Linked DNA regions of Homo sapiens: region 1 is linked to region 2. The links come from fine-mapping of genetic effects on gene expression. A gene starts in region 2. The other region holds a variant in brackets. All regions are shown on one strand. Distances are between the middles of the regions.

Evidence for each region.
Region 1: its variant is fine-mapped to the expression of FBXL12 in cerebellum (GTEx, PIP 0.93).

The regions. Positions count from the first base shown.
Region 1 is chr19:9,096,369-9,101,744 of GRCh38, forward strand. OR7G2 (olfactory receptor family 7 subfamily G member 2) reads right to left here. Exons shown (of 2, transcript NM_001005193.2): 2 at 4,039-5,376. Among named protein-coding and RNA genes, the nearest start is that of OR7G2, 8.4 kb to the right of the region's middle. The variant C/G (reference allele first, on the strand shown) is at 2,448.
Region 2 is chr19:9,816,354-9,821,729 of GRCh38, forward strand. FBXL12 (F-box and leucine rich repeat protein 12) reads right to left here and starts at 2,726. Exons shown (of 3, transcript NM_017703.3): 1 at 2,375-2,726; 2 at 2,192-2,264. The coding sequence starts at 2,460. It overlaps LOC124900430 (small nucleolar RNA SNORA70), which reads left to right and starts at 3,601; the gene lies at 3,601-3,741. It also overlaps the pseudogene RPL10P15. RefSeq lists silencers at 2,218-2,377, 2,828-2,917, 3,138-3,287.

The DNA of each region.
Region 1 (5,376 bases), 720 kb before region 2:
AATAAGTTGAAGTGTCTCAAGTTGATATAATGTGGATGTTTCTCTCCTCCAGATCTTATGTTGAAATGTGATCCCCAGTGTCGGAGGTGAGGCCTAGGCAGAGGTGTTTGATTATGGGGGCAGATTCATCATGAAGAATTTAGTGCCCTCCCCATAGTAATGAGGAAGTTCTTGCTCTACTACTTCACAAAGACCCTGGCACTCCTCCCCTCTCTCTCTTCCTCTCTCACCATTTGACTTGCCAGCTCCCCTTGCCCTTCCACCGTGATTGGAAGCTTCCTGAGGTCTGCACCAGAAGTAGATGATGGCACCACCCTTCTTGTACAGTCTGCAGAACTGTGAGACAAATAAACCTCTTTTCTTTATAAATTACCCAGACTCTAGGCTGGGCTCAGTGGCTCACGCCTATAATCCCAGCACTTTGGGAGGCTGAGGCAGGCAGATCACCTGAGGTCAGGAGCTCAAAAGCAGTCTGGCCAACATGGTGAAACCCTGTCTCTACCAAAAATACAAAAATTAGCTGGGCGTGGTGGCGCACTCCTGTAATCCCAGCTTCTGGAGAGGCTGAGGCAGGAGAATCACTTGAACCCAGGGGGCAGAGGTTGCAGTGAGCTGAGACTGCACCACTGCACTCCTGCCTGGGCGACAAGAGCGACACTCTGTCTCAAAATAAATAAATAAATAAATAACCCAGACTCAGGTATTCCTTGTAGCAACACAAACACTGATATAGAAGTCTTCCTAAATACGTAAATAAATATGATAATGCTAACTTAAAAAAATTTTTTTTTGAGAAGGAGTTTCACTGTGTCACCCAGGCTGGAGTGCAATGGCGCCATCTTGGCTCATTGCAACCTCCACCTCCCCGGTTCAAGTGATTCTCCTGCCTCAGCCTCCCGAGTAGCTGGGATTACAGGTGTGTGCCACCACGCCCAGCTACTTTTTTGTATTTTTAGTACAGACAGCATTTCACCATGTTGCCCAGGCTGGTCTCGCACTCCTGACCTCAGGTGATCCACCCGCCTCGGCCTCCCAAAGTGCTGGGATTGCAGGTGTGAGCCACTGCGCCTGGCCGATAATGCTAACTTTATAGGGGAGCAAATAGAGCTTGGAACAGTGAAATAAAGTGTCAACAATTATACGGTTATTTACAAAGCACAGGTGGGATTCAAAGCCAGTTGGTCTGATTCCAAATTCTCACCCTTAACCATGATGATCTTCTCTTGTATTTGAAGACCTTAATCAGGTTTTCCGGATCATTCATTATGAATTTCTCTTTTGTATATTTCACAGCTTAAAGTCCGAAGTAGCTGGCATGTTAGTGGAATGATGACACTCTAGAAATGGGTTTCTGAGAGGTGAGATCCACAGGGAGAAAAGGCCGGTGCAGTGGCTCATGCCTGTAATCCTGGCACTTTGGAAGCTGAGGCGAGTGGACTGCACGAGCTCAGGAGTTTGAGACTACCCTGTGCAACATAGTGAAACCCCCTCTCTACAAAAAATACAAAAATTAGCCAGATGTGGTGGTGTGAACCTGTAGTCTCAGCTACTCCAGAGGCTGAGGTGAGAGGATGCGTCACCTGAGCCTGGGGTGGTTGAGGCTGCAGTGAGCCATGATCACACCACTGCACTCTAGCCTGGGCAACAGAGTGAGATCCTGCTAAAAAAAAACAAAACAAAAAAACAACAACAAAAAAAAAACACACACACACATAAATTGCCTAGTAGGAAACTCTCATCCTTGTTTATTTTATTTATTTATTTATTTATTTATTTTGAGACAAAGTCTTGCTCTGTCGCCAGGCTGGAGTGCAGTGGCAAGATCTCAGCTCACTGCAACCTCCGCTTCCCAGGTTCAAGCGATTCTCCTGCCTCAGCCTCCGGAGTAGCTGGGACTACAGGTATGTGCCACCATGCCCGGCTAATTTTTGTATTTTTAATAGAGACAGGGTTTCACCATGTTGGCCAGGCTGGTCTTGAGCTCCTGACCTCAGGTGATCCGCCTGCCTCAGCCTCCCAAAGTGCTGGGATTTCAGGCATGAGCCACAGCGCCCGGCCTCATCTTCCTTCTGTACTGGATTCAACACCTCTTTCTCTACATACCTTTAAAGGTGTCCTCACTTTAGCAAACAATATCAGAAAGATTAATACTACATTTCAGCTTAAAAATAAAATTAATTCATAAGGATGTGTGTATTTTTAAAAATTTTACATTCCTGCATAAGAATATGTGGTATTACTTTCTCTTGCATTCAAATTGTCTCTTTCATTCTGAGAATGCCACCAGATGATGAAAAGCATGACAACTTTTTTTTTTTTAGATGGAGTCTTGCTGTGTTGCCCAGGCTGGAGTGCAGTGGTATGATCTTAGCTCATTGCAAACCTCCGTCTCCCGGGTTCAAACGATTCTTCTGCCTCAGCCTCCCAGCCTGGGTGAGAGTAAGACC[C/G]TTCTCAAAAAAAAATAAAAAAGGAAACAACAATCAGGGCACAAAATTCGTTCATGAAGTTTCAACTTTTACAATGTCAAAAAGAATAAAATTTGATTAATAAATTGTCTAGGGCTATAAACAACATGCATATTAAAAGGACAGATTTGTAGGGCAAAAATGTACAAGACTGTCAATCAAATACTAATTAATAAAAAAATCACTAATCAAATACAGCATCAATAAAATTCCTGTCTCCATGGTTACATTACTTCTTCCTTTTCTTTGTGTTTCCTCCACTTCTGTCTTTTTTTTTCTTTTTTTTTTTTTTTTGTTTGAGACTGAATCTCACTCTGTTGCCCAGGCTGGAGTGCAATGGTGCAATCATAGCTCACTGCAGTCTCCAACTCCTGGGCTCAAGCGATCCTCCCATTTCAGCCTCTCAAGTAATTGGGACTACAGGTACACACCACTGTGCCAAGCTAATTTTTAAAATTTTTTGTAACAGGGTCTGATTTTGTTGCCCAGCTGGGTTCAAACTCCTGGCCTCAAGCAATTCTCTTGCCTCAGCCTCCCAACGTGTTGGAATTACAAGGATGAACCACTGCGCCTGGCCTCCACCTCTGCCTATCTTATAAGAAAACATGTGGTTACATTTAGAGCCTGCCCAGGTAATCCAGGGTAAGCTGCTTCTCTGCAAAGACCCTTTTCCCAAATAAGTCACATTCACCCTTTTGTCATATGATTTAAGGCCAGGTGCGGTGGCTCACGTCTGTAATCCCAGCATTTTGGGAGGCTGAGGCAATTGTATCACTTGAGTCCAGAAGTTCAAGACCAGCCTGGCCAACATGGCAAAAACCCATCTCTACTAAAAATATAAAAATTAGCAGGCTGTGGTGGCAGGCACCTGTAATCCCAGCTACTCAGGAGGCAGAGGAAGGAGGATCTCTTGAACCCGGGAAGCGGAGGTTGCAGTGAGCCGAGATCACGCCACTGCACTCCAGCCTGGGCGACAGGGCAAGACTCCAGCTCAGATAGATAGATAAATAAATAAATAAATAAATAAATAAATAAATAAATAAAAGCTCAGATTCACAAGCGAGAGGATTAAAATGTGGATATAGTCTTCTGAGGGCCATGAGCCAACTCATGACAGAAATGTCTTCTGGTTGACTCCATGAAAGTTATCTATTATCAATGGACCCAGGGAAGGGTTCTCCATTTTCTGTCTCTGGGAATCAGGTCTAGATATGTCTCTTGCATTGACTGCAACTACCTGTTGCAGTCAGAGGAAAACCAGTGCTGGGGGGAGGGAACCTCGTGAAGGACTGAATGAAGCCCTCTCCTATTCGTGCACATTCCTTAATTCTGAGGTCCTTGTAATGAAAGAGAACTGTCTTTACTGTTTGAGCATATTAGAGTTAGGGGTGCTATTTATTTATTTATTTATTTATTTATTTTTTGAGTCTTGCTCTGTCTCCCAGGCTGGAGTGCAGTGGTGCAATCTCGGCTCACTGCAACCTCCGCCTCGCGGGCTCAAGCAATTCTCCTGCCTCAGCCTCCCGAGTAGCTGGGATTACAGGCTCCAGCTACCACACATGGCTAACTTTTGTATTTTTAGTAGAGATGGGGTTTCACCACGTGGGCCAGGCCAGTTTTGAACTCCTGACCTCAAGTGATCCACCCACCTTGGCCTCCCAAAGTGCTGGGATTACAGGTGTGAGCCACTGTGCCCAGCCCAGGGCTCCTATTCTTTAAACTGGAACCTAAGGTATCCTCACTTATGAAGTTCAAATATCTCACAATAATCTCAAATCACTAAGATAATCTAATCATGCTAATTTTTTGATGATAAAACTGAGTATAATAGATGCTAATGTTGTCTAGGGAGAATATAGTTTACCAGTGACTGGTCCCAGTAGTTACTAAATTGGGTATGAAAACTTAGCTCCCTTGACCCACTGTAGGTCTACACTGGGGTGCAATTGACAAGACCCTAAATACGCAATAAGGTGGAAGCTTGTCTCCAGATATAACAACAACCTCGCTTAAATCCTTTTCCTGGCAGCGCACAGTGACTTCACCACTAATCTCAGATCTTTGGGAGGCCATGGCAGGAGGATCACTTGAACCTAGGTTTTGAGACCAACCTGGGCAACATAGCCAGAGTCCATCTCTACACCACACCCCACACTGGACGTGGTGGTGCATGCCTGGAGTCCTAGCTTCCTAGGAGGCTGAGGTAGGAGGGTCCCTGGAGTTTGAGCCCTGGAGTCCTGGAGTTTGGGGCTGCAGGGAGCTATGATCATGTCATTGCATTCCAGCCTAGGTGACAAAGCAAGACCCTGTCTATGGAAAAAAAGAAACAAAAAACAAAACTGCCCAGCTACTTGGGAGCCTGAGGTAGGAGAATCGCTTGAACCCAGAAGGCGGAGGTTGCAGTTAGCCGAGATTGCGCCATTGCACTCCAGCCTGGTGGACAGAGCAAGACTCCGTCTCAGCAAAACAAAAAACAAAAAACCTAAACTAAACAAAAAACCAAAAATACATTTTCCTGACCTATCCTCCTGAACTATCTACCTTCCACAACTTTTCTTCTTCTGAGACTAATCCATTAAAAAAAAATCACTTAGCCAGGAGCGGTGGCTCACGCCTCTAATCCCAGTAATCCCAGAACTTTGGGAGGCCGAGGCGAATGGATCACAAGGTCAGGAGATCGAGACCACCCTGGCCAGCATGATGAAACCTCACCTCTACTAAAAGTACAAAAATTAGCCGGGTGTGGTGTCGTGCACCTGTAGTCCCAGCTACTCAGTAGGCTGAGGCGGGAGAATCGCTTGAACCTGGGAGGCAGAGATTACAGTGAGCCGAGATCACACCACTGCACTCCAGCCTGGCCGACAGAGCGAGACTCTGTCTCTAAATAAATAAATAAATAACTTGGGCTCAG
Region 2 (5,376 bases):
TCTGCTTCCCCTATAAAACTGAATACCTTTAACAGTACCCAAGTCACCTCTTGAATGCTTTGCCACTTAGAAATTTCTTCCACTAGATACCCTAAAACATCTTTCTCAAGTTCAAAGTTCCACAAATCTCTAGGGCAGGGGCAAAATGCCATCAGTCTCTCTGCTAAAACATAACAAGAGTCACCTTTACTCCAGTTCCCAACAAGTTTCTCATCTCCATCTGAGACCACCTCAGCCTGGACCTTATTGATCATACCACTATCAGCATTTTGGGCAAAGTCACTCAACAAGTCTCTAGGAAGTTCCAAACTTTCCCACATTTTCCTGTCTTCTTTTGAGCCCCCCATACTGTTCCAACCTCTGACTGTTACCCAGTTCCAAAGATGCTTCTACATTTTTGGGTATCTTTTCAGCAACGCCCCACTTACCGCTACCAATTTACAGTATTAGTCTGTTTTCACACTGCTGCTAAAGACATACCTGAGACTGGGAAGAAAAAGAGGTTTAATTGAACTTAAGTTCCACATGGCTGGGGAGGCCTCAAAATCATGGCGGGAGGTGAAAGGCGCTTCTTAACATGTTGATGGCAAAAGAAAATGAGAAAGAAGCAAAAAAGGAAACCCCTGATAAACCCATCAGATCTTGTGAGACTTATTCACTATCACAAGAATAGCATGGGAAAGACTGGCCCCATGATTCAATTACTTTCCCCGGGTCCCTCCCACAACACGTGGGAATTCTGGGAGATAGAATTCAAGTTGAGATTTGGGTGGGGACACAGCCAAACCATATCATGAACCAAGAGAGAAAGAAACATGTTTTAATGAATCTTCTCAGGCGGCTGAGGCAGGAAGATGGCTTGAGCCCAGGAGATGGAGGTTGCAGTATGTTATGATTTTGCCACTGCCTGGGTGACAGAGTGAGATCCATCTCAAAAAAATAAATTAGAAAAAGATAAACTGCAGAGCATAAATGTTATGGGCTACTTTTGACAGAGGAATCAAATCTTCCTTGCCAAATTTAGACCCGTGTGGGTCAGCAGAAATTGACTAGAAATAGTGGCCACCGAATGGTAACTCACAAGGGTAGCAGTTAAAGTTGGTAAAATTTTAAATGCACACAAAACCAATGGACGAATCAACTTTTCCTCGCAAAACCAACAACTAAGTTTCAACAACTGAGAAAAAGTTTCATATTATCAGGCCAGACACTGTGGCTCACACCTGTAATCCCAGCACTTTGGGAGACTGAGGTTGGGGGACAGCTTCAGTCCAGGAGTTCGAGACCATCCTGGGCAACATAGCAAGACTCTGTCCTTAAAAAAAGAACTTCAAAAGCAACTGTATTAAAGGGAGTTACAGATGGATATATACAGTAAAATTGTTTAAAAGTAGAACACTATCTAAATAGTAGAACAGCATTACCCGAAGTTCAGAAATACATTACTAACACTATAATTGTTTTTGGACACACACATATGAAGTAACGTAAAAGGAAGGGTGCAAATTCACTTTATAATAGCAATTATCTATGAAGACAGTTTCAAAAAGGGCAACAAATATATCTATAAATGTTTTGAGCCAGTTGCTGTGGCTCATGCCTGTAATCTGAACACTTTGGGAGGCTAAGTCGGGAGAATCACTTGAGCCCAGGAGTTCGAGACCAGCCTGGGCAGCATAGTGAGACTCCGTCTCTACAAAAAATAAAAAATTAGCAGGTGTAGTGGCGAGCGCCCGTGGTTCCAGCTACTCAGGAGGCTGATGCGAGAGGATCGCTTGAGCTTGGGAGGTCGAGGCTGCAATCGCACCACTGCACTCCAGCCTGAGCAGCAGAGCGAGACTCTGTCTCAAAAACAAAACAAAAACTTGATAACATAGTCATAAATTAGCATTTATCGAATGATAAATATGTGCCAGACTGTTCTAAGCCCTTTCCCTGCGTGATCTCAGTGAAGTCCCATAATAGCCCCGTGAGGCAGGTACTGTCCTTTATCCCCATTGCAGGGATGAGGAAATTGAGGCCCTGAGGTCGAAGAGGAGCTGGTAAGCGATGATGCCGAGATAGGCCCCGGATCGCCTGGCTCTAAATCCCCAGCCCGGGCCCCGACACACAGTCCCAGGGTGGGAGAGGTGGTCTTCGGGGTCCGGGCACCGCGACCGCGGCCCAGGCCCGCCCGGCCAGCTGCGCGTACCGTGTAGAGCGTCAGGTCGACATGTCGCCACAGCCACCGGTCGTCCACCAGCCTCTTCCAGCGGTGACAGACCCTGGGGGAGGGGACGCGCGGTTAGAACGACCCCAGCCCCGGGCCACATCGCATCTCCAGGTGCCAGCTGCGCCCTCCGCCCTGCCCTTCCCCCCGGAGGCGGGGCCGCACCTGGAGATGCGGATCCGGTCCCGTACCGGGAGGTAAGAGAAGATCTCGAGCAGGACCGAGTCCGGCAGTTCGACCAAAGTCGCCATGATCCCGCCGACACGCACTTCCGCTTCCGGTTAAAGAGACCCGAGGGGTCCTGGGGGCGCCGAGGCGGCTGACAGGGCGGCGGCCGCGACCTTCCCGTAGCCGGTCGAGAAATTTGACCTTCCTCTCGCTGGGAAGTGATTCGGTCCCAGGGCCGGACCAGCCGCGGATGGGGACCAGAAACCAGCCTGGAAAGCGTGGCTGAGGCAGTGAGAGGCTTGCGGGAGGTGGCTGAGGCGTGATTTGGCCGCGACTGGGAACTAAGACCAAGTCCAGAAGGCGGGGCTGGAGTGAGGCGAAGCTCGGAGGCGGGGCTAGAGACGAGGACCAAGTCCGGAAGGCGTGGCCGGGGTGGGGTGAGGATCGGAGGCGGGGCTAGAGACCAGGACCAAGTCCGGAAGGCGTGGCTGGGGTGGGGCGAGGATCGGAGGCGGGGCTAGAGACGGGGACCAAGTCCGGAAGGCGTGGCTGGGGAGGGGCGAGACCCGGGGACGGGGCTAGAGGCGAGGCCCAAGCCCGGAAGGCGTCGCTGGAGTTGGGCGAGGCTCAGGGGCGGAGCCAGAGAACGGAACCAAGTCCAGAAGGCGGGGCTGGGGCGCGGCTAGGGGGCGGGGCTAGAGACGAGGACCAAGTCCAGAAGGCGTGGCTGGGGTGGGGCGAGGATCAAGCCCGGAAGGCGCGGCTGGAGCGGGGCGAGGCCTAGGTGGGGCTGCAGACGAGAACCACGCCTTGGAGGCGTGGCTAGGGCGGGTAGAGGCTCGGACAACCGCTGGAAGGCGGGGCTGGGGCGGGGCGAGACCTTGGGGGCGGGGTTGACGACGAGGACCTAGCCGAGAGGTCGTGGTCTGGACGGAAACCAGGCTGCAGCAGGACCAGGCGCCAAGGGCGTGGCTGGGGAGCGATGGAGACGCTCGGAAGGTGGGGAGCGGGGGACGGAGACAGGGAGAAGACTACGCCATGAAGGCGTGGTTGAGGCGGGGCGAGGCCTGTGGGTCTGGCCCCGAGCGAATGGCTTGGTAGAGAGTCAGAGAACTCTATTTTTTTACTTAATGATGCTTCTTGATGTCTATGCACAAGGATAAATTTGTATTACTGGAATATCGTGGCCAAAGGACCTGTTGAATTTTTCACTTTCATTGATACTACAGATATTTTCTGAATTGGCAAGTCCACCAAGAAACTATAAAAATGTGTGTGTGCAATGGCTGCACACAGCAGCTTCCTTGGTAGTGTACGCAGCCTGTTGGTTGTATGGGTTGCTCTAAGGGACCTTGGAGACAGGCCTTTCCGATGGATGTTCATGTTTCTAACCTTGCACTACCACAATGTAGGCTCCAAACAGGCATGTGAGGTGCCTTTGGAAAGCCCCAGGGCACTGTGGCCAGGGTTGACATTGGCCAAGTTATCATGTCCATCCGCACCAAGCTGCAGAACAAGGAGCATGCGATTGAGGCCTTGCGCAGGGCCAAGTTCAAGTTTCCTGGCCGCCAGAAGATCTACATCTCAAAGAAGTGGGGCTTCACCAAGTTCAATGCTGATGAATTTGAAGACATGGTGGCTGAGAAGCGGCTCATCCCAGATGGCTGTGGGGTCAAGTACATCCCCAATCGTGGCCCTCTGGACAAGTGGCTGGCCCTGCACTCATGAGGGCTTCCAATGTGCTGCCCCCCCTATTAATACTCACCAATAAATTCTACTTCCTGTCCAAAAAAAAAAATGTGTGTGTGTGTGTGTGTGTGTGTGTGTGTATATATATATATATATATATATACACACACACACACACACGCACGCCTCCTGAAGCCAGGAGGCGGAGATTGCAGTGACCTGAGATCGCGCCACCACACTCCAGCCTGAGTGACAGAGCGAAACTCCGTCTCAAAAAAAAAAAAAAAGAATATGAAAGAGATTGTGGAGGTTGCAGTGAGCCCAGATCGCGCCACTGCACTCCAGCCTGTGCGACGGGTGCGAGACTCCATCTCAAAAAAAAAAAAAAATCATGTTACTGCAAAGGACATGATTTCATTATCTTTTTTTTTTTTTAAATTTGGGACAGGGTCTCTCTCTGTCACCCAGTCTGGAGTGCAGTGGCGAAATTATAGCTCACTGCAGCCTTAACCTCTGGGGCTCAAGTGATCCGATCCTTCCACCTCAGTCTCCCGAGTAGCTGGGACTGTAGGCACATGCCAACACGCCCGGCTAATTTTTGTTTTGTTTTTTGAGATGAAGTCTTGCTGCATCACCCAGGCTGGAGTGCAGTGGCACAATCTCGGCTCACTGCAACCTCCGCCTCCCAGGTTCAAGTGATTCTCCTGCCTCAGCCTCCCGAGTAGCTGGGACTACAGGCGCCCGCCACCATGTCCGGCTAATTTTTATGTTTTTAGTAGAGATCAGGTTTCACTATATTGGCCAGGCTGGTCTCAAACTTCTGACCTCAGGTGATCCACCTGCCTCAGCTTCCCAGAATGCTGGGATTACAGGTGTGAGCCACTGCGCCCGGCTAATTTTTGTATTTTTTTCTAGAGCCGGGGTTTTGCCATGTTGCTCAGGCTGGTCTTGAACTCCTGGGCTCAAGTTCTTCCTGCCTCAGCCTCCCAAAGTACTAGGATTACAGGCGTGAGCCACCACGCCCAGCTGATTGCATTTTTTTTATGGCTGCATTACGTGTGTCTTCTTGGCTTGTTGCCCTCCTATATCAGACTGAATTCTGGGGTGGCAGGTGGGACTTGTGCACCCCGGCCCTGCTGAGGTGCTCAGGTAATGGGGGGAGGAAACTCCTATGCCCCTCCCTCCACCCCTAAGATTATTTCCCTTCTTGTGAACTCTGGCAGGGGAAGGGGAGTGCCTCTAAGTTTGGCAGAACCCAGGTGTCCCTTCCCTGCCATCCCTACTCAGTTACAGGGGGTTCCTGCACCACC